Linked DNA regions of Homo sapiens. The protein of the gene in region 2 purifies or fractionates together with the protein of the main gene of each other region. This does not show direct contact. Each region holds a gene or a part of one and is shown on either strand. Other genes may lie near its edges.

Region 1 (7,039 bases), on a different chromosome or scaffold from region 2:
GTTCAATATTTTAAAAAACATTTGCACACCTACTGTGAGCAAAGCACAACACATACAGGAAAGACTTAGAAAGAGAGGGTATATTCCTGCACATTCTTGCCTACCTAGACTGAGGACCCTTGACATCTGCAAAGTTGACTGATGGAGGCCATATTCATCCTACCATATTGATAGTATTAACGTCAAGGAGGGAAACTTGCAAAAATATTTGGTAGGGTAAAATATAAACTAAACCTTTGGGAAAAGAGTGAGATTTAGCAGAAAGACAGGGAGAGGGGAGTGAGAATTCAGGACCAAGAGAATGACTTAAGACAAGAATATTTGGCTATATCAATTTAGAATCATGTCATGTGCCGCTATATACCGTGGTTTTTGTTTGTTTTGTTGTTTTGTTTTGTTTTGAGATGGAGTCTCACTCTGTCAAGCAGTGCTGCGATCTCAGCTCACTGCAAGCTCTGCCTCTCGGGTTCACGCCATTCTCCTGCCTCAGCCTCCCGAGTAGCTGGGACTACAGGCAACTGCCACCACGCCAGGCTAATTTTTTTGTGTGTATTTTTAGTAGAGACGGGGTTTCACCAAGTTAGTCAGGATGGTCTCGATTTCCTGACCTCATGATTCGCCCGCCTCGGCCTCCCAAAGTGCTGGGATTACAGGCTGTGAGCCACCACACACGGCCTACTGTGTTTTATTTACTACTTAATGCATATTTACAAAAGAATTGCCTTTCTTTCATGTATTTTTACACTTATTTAATAGGTAATCCAAGCACATGCTAAACATTTTTCAAAAGTTACAAGAAAGCAAATAGTGAACGATCTCTCTCCTAACAAAATAACCTGAAATACTCTATGAAATTGCATTTCTTTTCAACTATTCTAAACTTTAGACTTTCTTCTAATTCTGACTGGTATTTCCATAATTTACTGATTCCTAACCAGAAAACTATAATACGATTCTCTTTGTCCCATCCACAAATGTTGCACCAAAAACATTACCACTATACAATTGGAATTCAAGGTATATACAGGAAAACAGGTTTTAAAAGAAAAAGCCTGGATTTTCCCCTTCAGGTAACGTAGTTTTACTTCCTTTTTATAAGATAGAATTTTCCTCTGTATTCTGCCAACTTCTGTTGAGTCAATTAACTTACCGAGTGACTGTCTTTTAAAAAAGACACACACACACACACACACACACACACACACACACACACACACTCTTTATAATCTAGAAGCTTGAATCAGGGAACCAAAATTGATCATGGCTACTTTATATATTACTAGAGTATCAATTTAAGTGGTATTGTTTACAGCTGTAGTCTCCAAAACGGGGTTCATGTATGCCAAAACAGTGTATAAGGCTATATGTTGGGATGTAGGAGAAAATTACAACTTGCTTAGAATTGCTTTTTACTTTCTCCTTTCAAAATTTATATTGTAGGAAGCTTTATCATACATATAAGTCAATATATTGTCACATGTATAAAATTTATCAACATATATTGGGGTGTACACTCAAATATATTTTGCTAATAAAGGTATATAATAAAATAAATTTAGAGAATTAAGCAGCTCAGTACATGAGGTGATTATTTCTAAAATAAATAAATGTAGGCTGGGTGTGGTGGCTCTTGCCTATAATCCCAGTATTTTGGGAGGCTGAGGCAGGTGGGATCACTTGAGGCCAGGAGTTCCAGACCAGCCTTGCCAACATGGAAAAACCTTGTCTCTACCAAAAATACAAAAATTAGGCAGACATGGTGGCACACACCTGTAATCCCAGCTACTCAGGAAGCTGAGGCAGGAGAATCACTTGAACCCAGAGGCAGAGGCTGCAGTGAGCCAAGATGGCACCACTGCACTCCAGCCTGGGCAACAGAGCAAGACTCTGTCAAAAACAAAATAAAATAAAATAAACAAATGTACTGAGTTTCTAAGGTACATGAAATGCTAATTTGGGTTGAATAGACAGAGAATGCAAATTGTAAAAGGGAGAGATCAATGCAGGGCTAGCCTGCAAACTTTTAGAGGGAAAAGTAGGTAGCTTATTTTTTGATATGTGCTTATTTTCAACCACGTTACTGCTAAAAGAATTACTGAAATGAAGTGTATAAACCGTGGTTGAAGAGGAAGACCCTGAAGTCAGATTACCAGGTTCAAACCTTGATTCCACCAATTACTCTGGGGAAGACTAAATCACATATGTGTAAAGCATCTGTTCAGATGACAATGTGTAAAGCACTGTTCCACATCTGATACATCAGTAGTCAAAAATGTTAATAATAACTAGTATTAAATAAAAAGGACACCATTTATTTATTTTTTTGAGACAGAGTATACCTCTGTTGCCCAAGCTGGAGTGCAGTGGCGCAATCTCGGCTCACTGCAACCTCCGTCTCCAGGGTTCAAGCGATTCTCCTGCTTCAGCCTCCCAAGCAGCTGGGATTAAGGCGCCCGCCACCACGCCCAGCTAATTTTTGTATTTTTAGTAGAGATGGGGTTTCACCATGTTGGCCAGGCTGGTGTCCTATTCCTGACCTCAGGTGATCCGCCCGCATCGGCCTCCCAGAGTGCTGGGAATTATAGACATGAGCCACCGTGCCCGGCCTAAAAGGACACCATTTAAAAGACATTAGTTTTCTATAATAATGAGAACGAAACAGCCGAATCATGTTTTAATTCAACATGACCTTTGAAAAAGATGCTCTTTGGGTGTAACTGAAATATATTAGAACAAATGGAACAAACGGCTTTTTTCCTTCTCTTTTTACCCCCCAAATTCCCCTCAACATCACTCCCATGGACTATTTTGTCTTGGAACAGCTAATGTAAATTAAACAATGTCATCCTTAGTCAAACAGATACAGGAATAACTGTATACAGTATATCTTCTTGGCTTCACTTTTATGTGGAACATGTGTTTACATTTTGACCTTTTGTCTTTTTTTTAATTAAGAAACATTTTTAAACAGCAGCAACTGGAAAGACTTTTTTTTTTAGTTTCCAAACATATTAAGCTACACATGGCAGAGCCTATTGCTGAAACATTTATAAATGTTACACCAACTGTTTATAGTTCTGATTTTCTTATTTGATTGTTTTGTTGTCATGTAAGCCATGACCTGAAAATTTTAGCTCAAATTCTTTCCATAAAATTACATAATGAAACCGTCTGAGTCATTTTGAATTTGTGAAGCACAAAATTCGCTCTCATAAAATAATGATAAGCATCATAGTGAGGTTTTTAGAGTAGGATTTTGTGACTGTCCCAACCACAACTAGATGATATAGATAAGACAGGAAGGACAAGAACAGGATCAAGAACACAGTAACAATTCATTCAATTCAGAAAAATCACTGCATTCTTGTTTCTTTTCCATTGTCTCTTCTTAAGCAAGTGATAGGAAAATATAGTCTAATATTAGATTTCACTTCATTGAAAAAGAATCAAAGAACAAAAAAACCTGGAAATTCTGAAGACAAAAGTACTTTTCTTTAGCCCATCCTTTTAAACCTTATCAATCAACTTGATGGAAGACAGAAAAAATTCATATGATGTAAGTTAATATAAATAGCGCACAAAATGTTGGCAACAGTTGTATGAACAAACTCAAATTTATAAGGCCAAAACCTACCAAATTTGGATAAGGAACTTCTCTGTCTCTCACCTGCCCCATCTATTAACAAAATTGATCATACATACTATCTATGAGGCCATCTCTGACAAAAGGATGGTGTCTTAAGTCTAGGCAGGGAGCAGTGGCTCACGCCTCTAATTCCAACACTTTCGGAAGCTGAGGCAAAAGGACTGCTTGAAGCCAGGAGTTCAAGACCAGCCTGGGCAAGAAAGGAAGACCCATCTCTACCAAAAAACAAACAAAAACAGAAAAAAATGAAGTCTAAAGAGAGTAAATGTAAGACGAATCATTTCTTTTTTCTTAAAATAAGAACTATCCTACCTTCCAAGTTTCACACATTGTTTCTAATAGGCCATCCCAGATCTCAGCACTTTCTGTGATTCTCCACACTTCTAAAGTAGACCCTGCAGTTAGTCACTTCAGTCTTCTTCACTGAATCTCTCACCTTAAAATATTCCATCATTCCCCAACCTCCACTGTAGGACTTTATTACTACTACTACTGACAAACGATTTTCTTAATGGGTCAAAAATAAACCCCAAATTGATGGATTCATAGGTCCCCTGTTTGTATTTGCACAACTGAAAAAGAAACACAATTGTTTTTCAACATAGCTGTTAACAAAATCTTGACGGCTGGAAATTTACTGGAATCCATGGAATGAGATTTGCAACAATAAAATAACCATTCAATATTCACTCCTGTTCTACCCAGACACAGCACATCAATTTATGTGCATCCACAAAAAAAAAAAAAAAAAAAAAAAAAAAAAGCTGGTAACTGTCTTATCTAAAATAATAGCTAAATGGTTTGGTTTTTGATAGAAAAATTAAAGTACTAATGCTTCAATTTCTGTTTAGGTGTTTCCATTGTATGTCTTCAAAGTGTAAGTTACTCAAGCAAGCCTTCACAACTGGTTTTACTTCTCTCTTGCTCTCTCCCTCCCCCTTTCCCTTCTGACTTCATTATCTTTCTCCCTCTACCACCCTTCTTCCAAAGCCCAAAGTAATAGATGGTAAGAGAAGGGGTTTTTTGGTTTCCCAATTTCAACCCCTAAAGCAATCCACCTACTATTACTAGTAAAATGAATAATGTTCTTAACTTCTGCTTTGAAAATCACAATCACTATCTCTAACTCAAAATAATTTTTATTATCTTTTCTGACACTATTGTTTTATGCTCATAACTAAAATAATGGCTTCAATATTTTAGCCATTGTCATGAATGATTTAATCCATTTCAGGAGGATTTAAAACCACCATGTAAATCTCTAATAGCCAAAAACTATAAAGTCTCATTAATTACAAAATCCTGGAGCTCTTAGCTACAAATTATGAGCTGAAAAGATATGGATTTTATTACTGTATAACATTAAATCCTAAGTAAAACTGCCACATAAGCTCATTCCCTGCTTCACCTCGCCAAGAAGTGCAATACTGGATTCATTTCCATAAAACACAATGAAATTGCTATTCTGCAAAAAAAAAAGTATATAACTCTGTAAGATTTTATATCAATGATATAAACTTTACAATATTTTGCTTGACCTTAAGGATGTTTTGTAAATTCTCCAAATTCCCTTTGAACTGTAAAAACCAAAAGGTAGGTAAGATTCCAACAAGACTGGACATGGGACAGAGTTAAGAGGATTAAGCCACAGTTATTACATGGTAAATTTCTATTTATTACTTTTGATATGCTTGTCTTATGGGGTATGAGTCTATATTTTTGGTATGTGTATCTACTTTGAACTCTAGATCTTTTTCTTCTATAACTCAGAAAATCAGCTCTTTATTTTCTATCACGGTAGTTATTTTTTCTCCCAGGTTGACTGCTCTGCATGTGCCCATGTGTAGTTAATTTTGTTTCTGACCACTTGTCCATTTATCAGAGTAATCTGAATGGTATTTACTTCATTTTTTGTTTCAGCAATTCCACTGAAGAAATTATGGGGCAACACAAGATCTCTTGATGATGCCTATATAAAATCATGAATTACCACAGATTTTACTCCAAACTAGTACTGATGCAATGCTATAGCCTACCGTAAACCTTCTAAGAAATTCAAGGCCTAGGGATGCTACCCTTTCAGACATGACATGTCAAACTGTATTTGCTTTCTCTAGGACGGGGAAGAGGGAGACAGAGTAGATGCCAAGAGGTTTCCATTATGGCTTCTTTCTGGCCTTTGAGAGTTTCCCTAGAAAGGGTCACCATAAGCCACTATCATTCTAACATCTAAAGCTTGCTCTTTCGACCAGAATTGATAGCAAATGGAAAGTAACAATTAGAATTTATAAGACTGGAAGAGAATAGGAGAGGGAAAAGAAAGCTATTAGAAGAGGAAGGGATCCTTTGGAAAGGTAGGAAAGAAGATGACCTTCACCCATCTGACTGTTTGCTCTAGCGCCACCTACAGCCACACCACCTGACCCTCAAAAATCACCGACCCCTGGCCAGACAACATTTTTTCCAGCTAACTGCAGGTGCCTGGCTTATTTGATTAAACCACCACATTATAAGGTCAAGGTCACATGCTTGATCCCTACGTTTGTCCTACGTTTGTCAATGGGCACAAGTTGCATGGTCAAAAACTTGCCTTTTAACTCCAACCTCTCATAAATACCATCACTTACGTTAAAGACATTCACAAGAGAGGATATGAACCAACAATGCAAATCCATCAGCATTACTAAAAGAAAAAAAAACAGGAAAACCTGACTTGTGAGTCAGCCCACAGAACAAATTCCATTTAAGAACTCCCTGATCATCCTGGGCTTCAAGGTTAGATACATAAGAGTAAGAAATCAGGCTTCCCTACTTACTCGTTTTATGTGTGACCTTGGACAAGTTAATTTTTCAGAGCTTTAACAATAAAACACATTAAGGGTCCCAAATAGAGCTTGACATATAAGGGATACTCAGGTTATGCTAGCCCCAGCCCCATCTGGAGATAGAATCGGGCAGTCAAGAGCACAGGGATGAAGCCAGGTCCACCTGTATCCCAATCTTGATTTTGCAGCTCACGTGAAACACTGGGCAAGTGATGGCCTTATCGTTCTCATAAAGCTGAGACAAAAAAATTAAAGCATTTAGACAGCACACAGCAATTGTCAACTAACGGCAATTATGTTTTAAATGTTAAGAAGAATATAGTATTATCACTATCTGTTAATGTTTTCCAAAGTACAGTCATGGAACTATTGATATCAGAATGACCTGGGTGGGATGTCTACTGAGGGGGAAGAAAAGGATATCATGTCCCATCTCAACCTATTTAAAAAAGCTCTCCAAAAATGGTACAGGGTAATGGTCATTTCTGAATCAAACTTCCTTGAGATATCTATGAAAATTTCAGAATTACTGACCCAGCAGGTCTTGTGCTGTGTCATAGTAAATTAA
Region 2 (7,039 bases):
GATTTTTCTTTGTTGTGGTTTTGTTTTTGTTTTTTTAATTTAAAGATGCCAAGTGTGGGATTTCAGAGTTGTAGGATGTGGTTATGAGCTTTTAAGAGCTATCATAAGGCTCTCCGGAAAGGTAGTACAGACTTCCCCTTTTCTTGGCTCATATAGCGCCTCTTCCCCACAGTTCTAGAATAATGGGTTCCAGATTTAATGTGGGAGAGAATTTAGGTACCCATCCCTTGGCTGTATGCCTTGAGCTTTTTTTTTTTTTTGAGTCTCGCTCTGTCACCCAGACTGGAGTGCAGTGGCACTATCTTGGCTCACTGCAACCTCTGCCTCCCGGGTTCAAGTGATTCTCCCGCTCAGCCTCCCGAGTAGCTGGGAGTACAGGCTCCCGCCACAACTCCCGGCTCTCTCTCTTTTTTTTTTGTATTTTTAGTAGAAACAGGGTTTAACATGTTAACCAGGATGGTCTCAATCTCCTGACCTCGTGATCCACCCGCCTCAGCCTCTGAAAGTGCTAGGATTATAGGTGTGAGCCACCGCACCCAGCCTCCTTGAGCTATTTTAACCTTCAAGATAGTAATTCATTTGGCTGGGCACCGTGGCCTGTCATCCCAGCACTTTGGGAGGCCGGCTGGCGGATCACCTGAGGTCTCGAGTTCCAGTCTAGCCAACATGGCGAAACCCCGTCTCTACCAAAAATACAAAAATTAGCCAAGTGTGGTGGTGGGCGCCTGTAGACCCAGCTACTCTGGAGGCTGAGACAGGAGAACTGCATGAACCTGGAGGCAGAGGTTGTAATGAGCCGAGATCACACCACTGCACTCCAGCCTGGACGACAGCGAGATAAAAGGAAAACAATCTAGCAAGGTTCTGTGTTTGAATGTGAAGCAAAACGGTAGCACTAAATTTCTTCCCTGAGGAATTGATGTAAAGCCTTAGCCCTGGCCACTGCCTAGCCCTGCATTGTGCTTCAAATGCTATCATTGCTGCTGCTTCAAATATCAGCAAGAAAGTTTATCTTTAAAGATATAGGGACTTTCAAATGGAGGTGACCTTCTCACTACCACTGCCCCCACTTCATCACTTCAGGGGCAGAACACACCTCTTAGCATTCCTTCACAAACTGTAAGGTCCTTCTCAATCCCCTAGGGATCTTGTTAAAATGCAAGTCTGAGGTGAGACTGGGATACTGCATTTCTAGCAAGGTCCTAGGCAATATTCAGGACTTCTGGTACATGGATCGCACTTTCAGAAGCAGAGTCCTAGAGTAGTGGTTCCCAGCCTTGGCTGGAAAGTAGAACCTCTCAGGGAACTTTTAAAAGTACTGATGTTCTGGTTCTGCCAGAAAACAATATAAGTCAAACCAATATGAGTTGTTAAAACATGTGCATTTGTTATCTCTAAAAGAAAACAAACCCAAATAAGGTGTAATTCAGCTTGTCAGTTGAAGGATTTTTGGTTTTAAAAAGACATTACTTTGGCAGAGAGATTTAAAGTTTGCTGGCATAGGAAGCATTGAATGTAAGTGTTCTAGAATAAGCCCATCATATACCTTTAGTGAGTGTTAACTGCTTTGCAAAGAACTTTCTATATCTCAGCTAATCCTTATACCAACCATCCATTAAGAGATGTGTCCCCATCTTACAGATGAGGAAAAATTGAGTTTTCTATCCCCTTTACATGTCTGTTGCCTTCTTCTAGGCCCTTACTATTCCTCCTTGCTTAGACCTAACTGACTTAGGTTTCTAGGTTCCTTCTGCTCGATATACTTCACTTTTCTTTTTTGAGATGGAGTCTTGATCTCGGCTCACTGCAACCTCCACCCCCCTGGATTCAAGCAATTCTCCTGCCTCAGCCTCCTGAGTAGCTGGGATTACAGGCGCCTGCCACCATGCCCAGCTAATTTTTGTATTTTTAGTAGAGACAGGGTTTCACCGTGTTGCCCAGGCTAGTCTCAAACTTCTGACCTTAGGTGATCTGCCGAGCTCTGCTTCCCAAAGTGCTGGGATTTCAGGCTTCAGGCATGAGCCACTGCGCCCAGCCTCGATTCACTTTTCATCCTGTTCCCAGAATTGCCTTCTAGAAACAATTTGATGTGTGTGCCTTGCAGACCTATGCTGGTTCTCTGTTGTCTGCAGGATAAAGTCCAGACTACGCAGTGGGGCCCTAGGACACCCTCACTGACCCCACGATGGTACAGATGCTCCTCAGCTTACAATGGAGTTACATCCTGGTAGACCCATTGTAAGCTGAAAATAGCATAAATCGAAAATAAATACATCTAATGCACCTAACCTACTGAACACCATAGTTTAGCCTAGGCTACTTTACATGAGCTGAGAAGACTCACAGTCGTCTACAGTGGGGCAAAATCACCTAGCAACACGATCCACTCTGGAGTGCCCGTTGTTCACCCTTGTGATAGAGTGGATGACTGGGAGCTAGCATTGCGAGAGAGTAGCGCATCACCTATTGGTAGTCCAGGGAAAGATCAGAATCCAAAATTGGAAGTATAGTTTCCACTGAATGGGTATTGTTTCCCACCATTGTAAAGTTGAAAAATTCTCAGTTGAGCCTTGGAAGATCAGGGAGCGCCTGTATTTGAATCTTCCAAGTCTGACCTGGACCTTCATGCTGCAGTTTGCTGTGTTGGTCCCTCACCCTGGAGCATCTCCTTAGCCATTGGGAATTTTATTCCTCCTTCATTCTCACTGTCTCTAATTGCTGAGTAACAAAGTTCCATTTCATTGACTCATGATTTTATGGGTAGATGTGAGGGAACCATGCACATGTGGATTCCATGGGGGTTTGAAATGCTCTGATGCCACTTGATAGAAAAAAATGTTCTGTGAGTTTAGAGAACTGAGCCACACTGAGCAGAGCTAGCCCCTTTTTGGGGAACATAGAGAGAATTTGGCATCATGAAGTGATGAAGGGAGGGATTTGGGTTAAAGAATAGAATGCTCGGTTTGTTTCAAGAGGGTGCGTGAGTTGGGGAGCATGGAGGGGAAGATGCCTCTTCCTGGCCACTGACCCCCAGTGGATCACACAGAGGGTGGACTGGTACGAGCTGAGAGGTGTGCTCCTCTTGGAGGGCAGGGAAGGCGGAGGAGATGGCTCCAGCTCTACCCTGTTGACTGTCTTGCATGTGCGGTTGCCAGTATCCTCCTACCTGGCTCTGTAACATCCCTCCTCCCCGCTCTCCTGCTCTCCCCAGGTGTAATTACTTCAAGCCTCCAGGATGGCAATCCAGTTCCGTTCGCTCTTCCCCTTGGCATTGCCTGGGATGCTGGCGCTCCTCGGCTGGTGGTGGTTTTTCTCTCGTAAAAAAGGCCATGTCAGCAGCCATGATGAGCAGCAGGTGGAGGCTGGTGCTGTGCAGCTGAGGGCTGACCCTGCCATCAAGGAACCTCTCCCCGTGGAAGACGTCTGTCCCAAAGTAGTGTCCACACCCCCCAGTGTCACAGAGCCTCCAGAAAAGGAACTGTCCACCGTGAGCAAGCTGCCTGCAGAGCCCCCAGCATTGCTCCAGACACACCCACCTTGCCGAAGATCAGAGTCCTCGGGCATTCTTCCTAACACCACAGACATGAGATTGCGACCAGGAACACGCAGAGATGACAGTACAAAGCTGGAGCTAGCCCTGACAGGTGGTGAAGCCAAATCGATTCCTCTAGAGTGCCCCCTTTCATCCCCAAAGGGTGTACTATTCTCCAGCAAATCAGCTGAGGTGTGTAAGCAAGATTCCCCCTTCAGCAGGGTGCCAAGGAAGGTCCAGCCAGGCTACCCCGTAGTCCCCGCAGAGAAGCGTAGCTCTGGGGAGAGGGCAAGAGAGACAGGTGGGGCCGAAGGGACTGGTGATGCCGTGTTGGGGGAAAAGGTGCTTGAAGAAGCTCTGTTGTCTCGGGAGCATGTCTTGGAATTGGAGAACAGCAAGGGCCCCAGCCTGGCCTCTTTAGAGGGGGAAGAAGATAAGGGGAAGAGCAGCTCATCCCAGGTGGTGGGGCCAGTGCAGGAGGAAGAGTATGTAGCAGAGAAGTTGCCAAGTAGGTTCATCGAGTCGGCTCACACAGAGCTGGCAAAGGACGATGCGGCGCCAGCACCCCCAGTCGCAGACGCCAAAGCCCAGGATAGAGGTGTCGAGGGAGAACTGGGCAATGAGGAGAGCTTGGATAGAAATGAGGAGGGCTTGGATAGAAATGAGGAGGGCTTGGATAGAAATGAGGAGAGCTTGGATAGAAATGAGGAGGGCTTGGATAGAAATGAGGAGATTAAGCGGGCTGCCTTCCAGATAATCTCCCAAGTGATCTCAGAAGCAACCGAACAGGTGCTGGCCACCACGGTTGGCAAGGTTGCAGGTCGTGTGTGTCAGGCCAGTCAGCTCCAAGGGCAGAAGGAAGAGAGCTGTGTCCCAGTTCACCAGAAAACTGTCTTGGGCCCAGACACTGCGGAGCCTGCCACAGCAGAGGCAGCTGTTGCCCCGCCGGATGCTGGCCTCCCCTTGCCAGGCCTACCAGCAGAGGGCTCACCACCACCAAAGACCTACGTGAGCTGCCTGAAGAGCCTTCTGTCCAGCCCCACCAAGGACAGTAAGCCAAATATCTCTGCACACCACATCTCCCTGGCCTCCTGCCTGGCACTGACCACCCCCAGTGAAGAGTTGCCGGACCGGGCAGGCATCCTGGTGGAAGATGCCACCTGTGTCACCTGCATGTCAGACAGCAGCCAAAGTGTCCCTTTGGTGGCTTCTCCAGGACACTGCTCAGATTCTTTCAGCACTTCAGGGCTTGAAGACTCTTGCACAGAGACCAGCTCGAGCCCCAGGGACAAGGCCATCACCCCGCCACTGCCAGAAAGTACTGTGCCCTTCAGCAATGGGGTGCTGAAGGGGGAGTTGTCAGACTTGGGGGCTGAGGATGGATGGACCATGGATGCGGAAGCAGATCATTCAGGAGGTAGGAGGGTCTCGGGTTCGTTTAGAGGATGGGGCGCTCCCAGTATTTCTTGGAGAAAGGCTGCCAGTCTGCCTCTCCCTTCTGCTACTTGTGCAGCAAAGTCATAGTGCTCTTCAGCTCTTTATCGCAACCTGCAGAGGTCTGGACACGGCGTAGAGCTGGTGGGTAACTGAGGAGTTAGATTGCCCTGAAACCCCAAGTCATGGGAGCTGTAACTTGGTTCCTCAACCGGTGACCTTCCCCAGTGAGCCCTTCCCAAGGAACTAGCGCCAAGTTGGGCTCGCTGATTAACATTAGTGTGCCTCTTTTTCTTTGTTTAAAAAAATTATTATTATTTTGGTGCAGATGGAGTCTTCCTTTGTTGCCCAGGCTGGTCTCGCACTCCTGGGCTCAAGTGATCCTTCCGCCCTCGGCCTCCCAGAGTGCTGGGTTTATAGGTGTGAGTCACTATGCCCAGCCCATTTTTTTTTCTTTTTTAAACACTAACCTCTTTGTGTGTGCGTGTGTGTGTGTGTTTTAATGGAGAGGCCTCCTTAGCTTTACTTCCCTTGAGTGCCAGGTATGGGTGTGAGTGTTTTGAATGGTTTTTATTTCCTTTTAATCATGTGCTTGTTCCCATGTCTTCACCTGCTTTCCTTCTCCAGAAGCTCTTACAGGGTAAGTGCCCAAAGAACGGCCACAGCTTTGAATACTTGTGGGAGGCTTGAGCTTCCTGAGTTGTCGCTGTCACCTTTGCAGAAAGCCTCAGCCATTTTCTTTCTGTGCAGTTGCAGCTCCACCCCCGGGAAAGCGGGGCACTTTGATAACGAGGTGTCCTGGGTTTTTCGAGTGCTGACCCCAGCGTAGACAGTTCAGACCGCTAACTTACAGGTCAGCAGCTCCTGACCCTGCTTCTGCAGGCACCCTGGGGTGTTTTCATTTATCTCATGGAGAGAGGCCACGAATATCCCGAGTGGCTCTCTGACTTGTTTGTCCTGGAGCCATTCCCTCCCATTTCAGCTCCGGGTAGGTTGGGAATCTTTATTGGGAATTTTACCACTTTCAGCAGCATCTAGTTTGTACCACACGCTACATTTTGTCACCTCCAAGATGCTGTTAAGACACTACTGTTTTTATGTACCTTGGAAAGAAAAAAGTGCTGCCAGTCATGATTATAGAAGGCAAGATACTATATGATGCATCCTAATCTCGGGATGTTTAAATGTTTCTTAAAATACTGCATCTGAAAATGGGTGATTTTTATTTTATTTATTTTTTAAGAATAAAGGAGTTTCCCTTTGCTTACTGCCCCTCAGCTGAATTAACAAGCCCCGCAGCCTTGTCTGCCAACTCTAGATGGATAGTAGTAGCTACTCAGACCTGTTGAAGTCTTCTGAGTTTAGGCTTGAACCTAAGCCGTGGTGATGGGCAGGGAGGTTTAGGGATGGCACGTGGAAATGAGGTAATACTGTCCACGAGCATGCGGTGGGTGCCAAGCACGAGGTTAGTGCCTCGCATGTACCTTCATGTCAGCCCTGCTTTGTTTGTGAGGAAGTTGAAGCTGAGAAGGGGACCAGGGACCACCCCACTGAGGGAGCTGGAAGCTGGCCTTTGAGTGCAGCCTGCTAGAGTCCGGGTGTGGTTCTGAGCCACTGCTGGGAGCCATCGGGATGGCAGGTGTTAGCCAGTCCCATTCTGTGGGGCAGAGGCTGGATACTGTGAGTGAGCAGAGCTCCCCGCCCCCTCGCCCAGCCCCTGTCAGCCTGTTATGCTTCCCGCAGGCTAGCCAAGCAGTCTTCCCCCAGAAGGGGTACTTTTCCCTGCATGAATCCTGTTCGAAGCGCCTAGTGTTAAGGGGGGAAGTCATTTTGAAGGTGATTCTTCCTTAGCTGGGAGCAGGATCTCTTGGGCCTTAGTTCTCTGCATCCAGTGTATGGGTTACTTGGCAAAGGATTATACTCAGGGTTTGGAGAAACCATGTGGAAGGTAACCTAATTGGTAGACTCTCAGGAGTGATCTATTTCTGGTGATTGAGTCATCCATATTTAAGCCAGGGCCACTTCTCTTGAGCTGATCTGGACCCGCTTTTTTGTGACGGTCCCTTTGGCACG
Region 3 (2,614 bases), on a different chromosome or scaffold from region 2:
ACGTCCCCGGCGCCCAGCCCCCCTCTCCACGCCTCTCCAGCGCGCTCCGCTCTCGGGACCGCACTTACCGGGAACTCGCCGCCCGCGGGCCGGGGCTGCCGCGCTCGCAGGGTGCTGCGGGGACCCTCCTGCTGCCGCCGCCCCCGCGTCCCTCAGGCGCGCCTGGCCCGGCGCTGAGGATGCGGGAAGGGGGGCGCGCACCCTCTCCCCCTTCTACTCCCCCTGCCAGGGCCGCCCCCGCCGCCGCTCGGCCTCCTGGCGCGCCAGCCCCAGCGCCTCCCTAGAGCGCCCTCTCGGTCCCGGGCTGGACGCCGAGGGGGCGCGCCGCAGATTTGGGGACCCCGAATCTGGGGTCAAAGGGCAGTTTGACGCTCGTTTCTCCTGCGGGGCCGAAGGAGTGCCGGAATTTCAGCTAAACCCTGGTTACAAGGACTTCAAGCCAGGACCTGATCGGCCTGCACGCTGGGGTCCGAAATTCCCTTTCCAACCCCCTGGGGGTGTGTGGGTGGGTGATCGAAGTCGAGAACACCAGCGACACTTTTTTTTTAAACAAAACTTTATTGGTAATAGTTTTCAAATATGTTTACAACAGCACACTGTTCAAGAGGAAGTCTCGTCCTTCGCAGCACACAGGTTGAATCGCCCCCGCACCCACCCGGGGCCCCACCCCAGGCCTGAGAACTCCTCCTGGGATGGGGAGAAGTTATGAGAGGGGGAAATACGGGGATGAATGGGGTGGCTCCCCAGCGGCTCCCCACTTTTCTATTACGAGAGAAAAAAGCACAAATGAGAAAGTGGGGGAGAGGTGATGGACAGCTGACAGCTAAGCTGGAGGAGGGGCGCCCAGGATGGGGGAGGCGGAAGCTGGTGGGTGAGTAAAACAGGCAGCCCCTCCCCAGCAGCTCTAGCCTTGAACCCCGGGCCGTGGCTTGGGGGGACTTGGCCTCTTCTGTTCCCTTTTGCAGGGATGCCCTCCCCACTCAGCTGAGGGAAGGCTGGACGTTAAAATCTAGCGGAGAATAAAATTAAGGAGTTGGGGGGAAACGCTGCTGGGAGGAAAGACTTGGGCTTGGGGCTCCCCCTCTGTCTTTTTGGGGGATGACTCCTCTTTGGCAGGGAGAGGGGCAGCTGCTTTGTCTGGCTTTCAAAGCCCAAGGGTGAAGACAGGTCTGTTGGGGAAAAAGAGAGCGGAGGCTTCCTAAAGGGGCCTAGACCCTCGCAGGATTGGCAGAGAGGATTCCCCGGGGAGGGGCCCAGGGGAGATTAGCAGCGGGGAGGTTCAAACCCCAGCGCCTCCCTTTCCAAAGTCAGTCTGCTTCTCTTTAAAATGGATTTGAGGAATGGGGGGACATGGGAGGGGTGGGAGTAGAGGAAGGAGGGAGGGAGGCACTGGTGGAACTTAAATAAGATTTTAAATTGTTGTTTTTTTAAAAAAATTCTAGCAAGCAACCCACTGAACATGTCACTAAAAATCTCTCCTTCCCAGGCAGGATTACTCCGAAAGGAAGGTTGGCGCTTCGTTCATTTGCCCTTAGCAAGTGGGGCCTGTGGTTGGGTGGGATGGGGGTGTGGGTGGGGGCTGGAGTTAAGCGTGAGCCCCTCTTTCCATACCCTGTCCCTGGATACACCAGCAAGACCTGGTCTGACTGGAGTTGAGAAACTCGTTTAAAACAGGCAGAAGTGGGCTGGGAGGGCTGAGGGGCTGGGGGGCTGTGGGGAAAGAGGAAGGGAAAAGTGGGAGAGGGGGCAGGAGGGTGAAGGGGATGAGGGGGAGCAGCTGGTGTTTCTGTCCCTCTGATTATCTGGGCTTCCTGCTCCCCCTAACCCTGGAGGGTGGGGTGGGGGTGAAATTAGATGCAAGGAACTCTGGGGCCCTCTGGCTGTTCAATCCAACCCTCCCACCCCCCCGACCAAAAAAAAGAAAAAAGAAAAAAGAAAACCCATGGGGGCACAGGCATGCCCCTAAAACTCAGAAAACTCCTTGCCACACTTCTCATTGATGGAGACCCGGATTTCTTCTTCCTCATAGTCGTCAAAGTTACTCGTATCCCCAGGGCCTTTAAACTTTGGTATGAAGGGAGCTTCCACCTGGAGAGGGATCAAGAATCACCCAGACCTCAGCATTCAACATAATCATTATTACAACAATAAATGCGAATGGCCTAACATTCAAGAGATATTTACTCTGACTCAGGCCTGTGCTTACCATTAGGTTATGGATTCCTCTTAACAGCCCGAAACTCTTAATGTAGCAACTCATCAAAGGGGAAATTACTTCCCAGAGAGAGGCATCTGTTGCACAAGGTCATGGAATGGCCAAATGACCCCAGAATCCCATTTCTAGACCCCACTGCTCTAAGCTCTCTACTCTAGGTTGCTCCTGAACCTGTGTTCTCTTCTCTATTTCTCTATTGGCTGTCCTCCCTGACTCTTGGCCTGCTCCCAAACCCTCAGCAGGCTTAAGGAGGGGAGGCCCACCTTCCTCTGGTAGATGGCAATCCAGTCAGTTGTGGCAAACCACTTGTGGTTCTTGATATCGTTGACCCCATTCTTGAGGTTCCCAAAGCGCTTGGTGAGATCTACCTGCAGGAGGTTCCGCAGCAGGTCCTTCAAG

Evidence for each region.
Region 1: the proteins of AKAP1 (region 2) and PRKAR2B purify together in Homo sapiens (affinity purification with mass spectrometry; 5 studies listed by BioGRID and IntAct, with this or other methods). This does not show direct contact.
Region 3: the proteins of AKAP1 (region 2) and PRKACA purify together in Homo sapiens (affinity purification with mass spectrometry; 8 studies listed by BioGRID and IntAct, with this or other methods). This does not show direct contact.

What each region holds. Positions count from the first base shown.
Region 1 is NC_000007.14:107,047,704-107,054,742, reverse strand, and holds part of PRKAR2B (cAMP-dependent protein kinase type II-beta regulatory subunit), read right to left. Parts: intron 1-7,039. UniProt on the Homo sapiens protein: Regulatory subunit of the cAMP-dependent protein kinases involved in cAMP signaling in cells. Type II regulatory chains mediate membrane association by binding to anchoring proteins, including the MAP2 kinase.
Region 2 is NC_000017.11:57,102,230-57,109,268, forward strand, and holds part of AKAP1 (A-kinase anchor protein 1, mitochondrial precursor), read left to right. Parts: intron 1-3,211; 5' UTR 3,212-3,235; coding exon 3,236-4,949; intron 4,950-7,039.
Region 3 is NC_000019.10:14,091,150-14,093,763, forward strand, and holds the end of PRKACA (cAMP-dependent protein kinase catalytic subunit alpha), read right to left. Parts: coding exon 2,479-2,614; intron 2,089-2,478; coding exon 1,963-2,088; 3' UTR 539-1,962; downstream 1-538.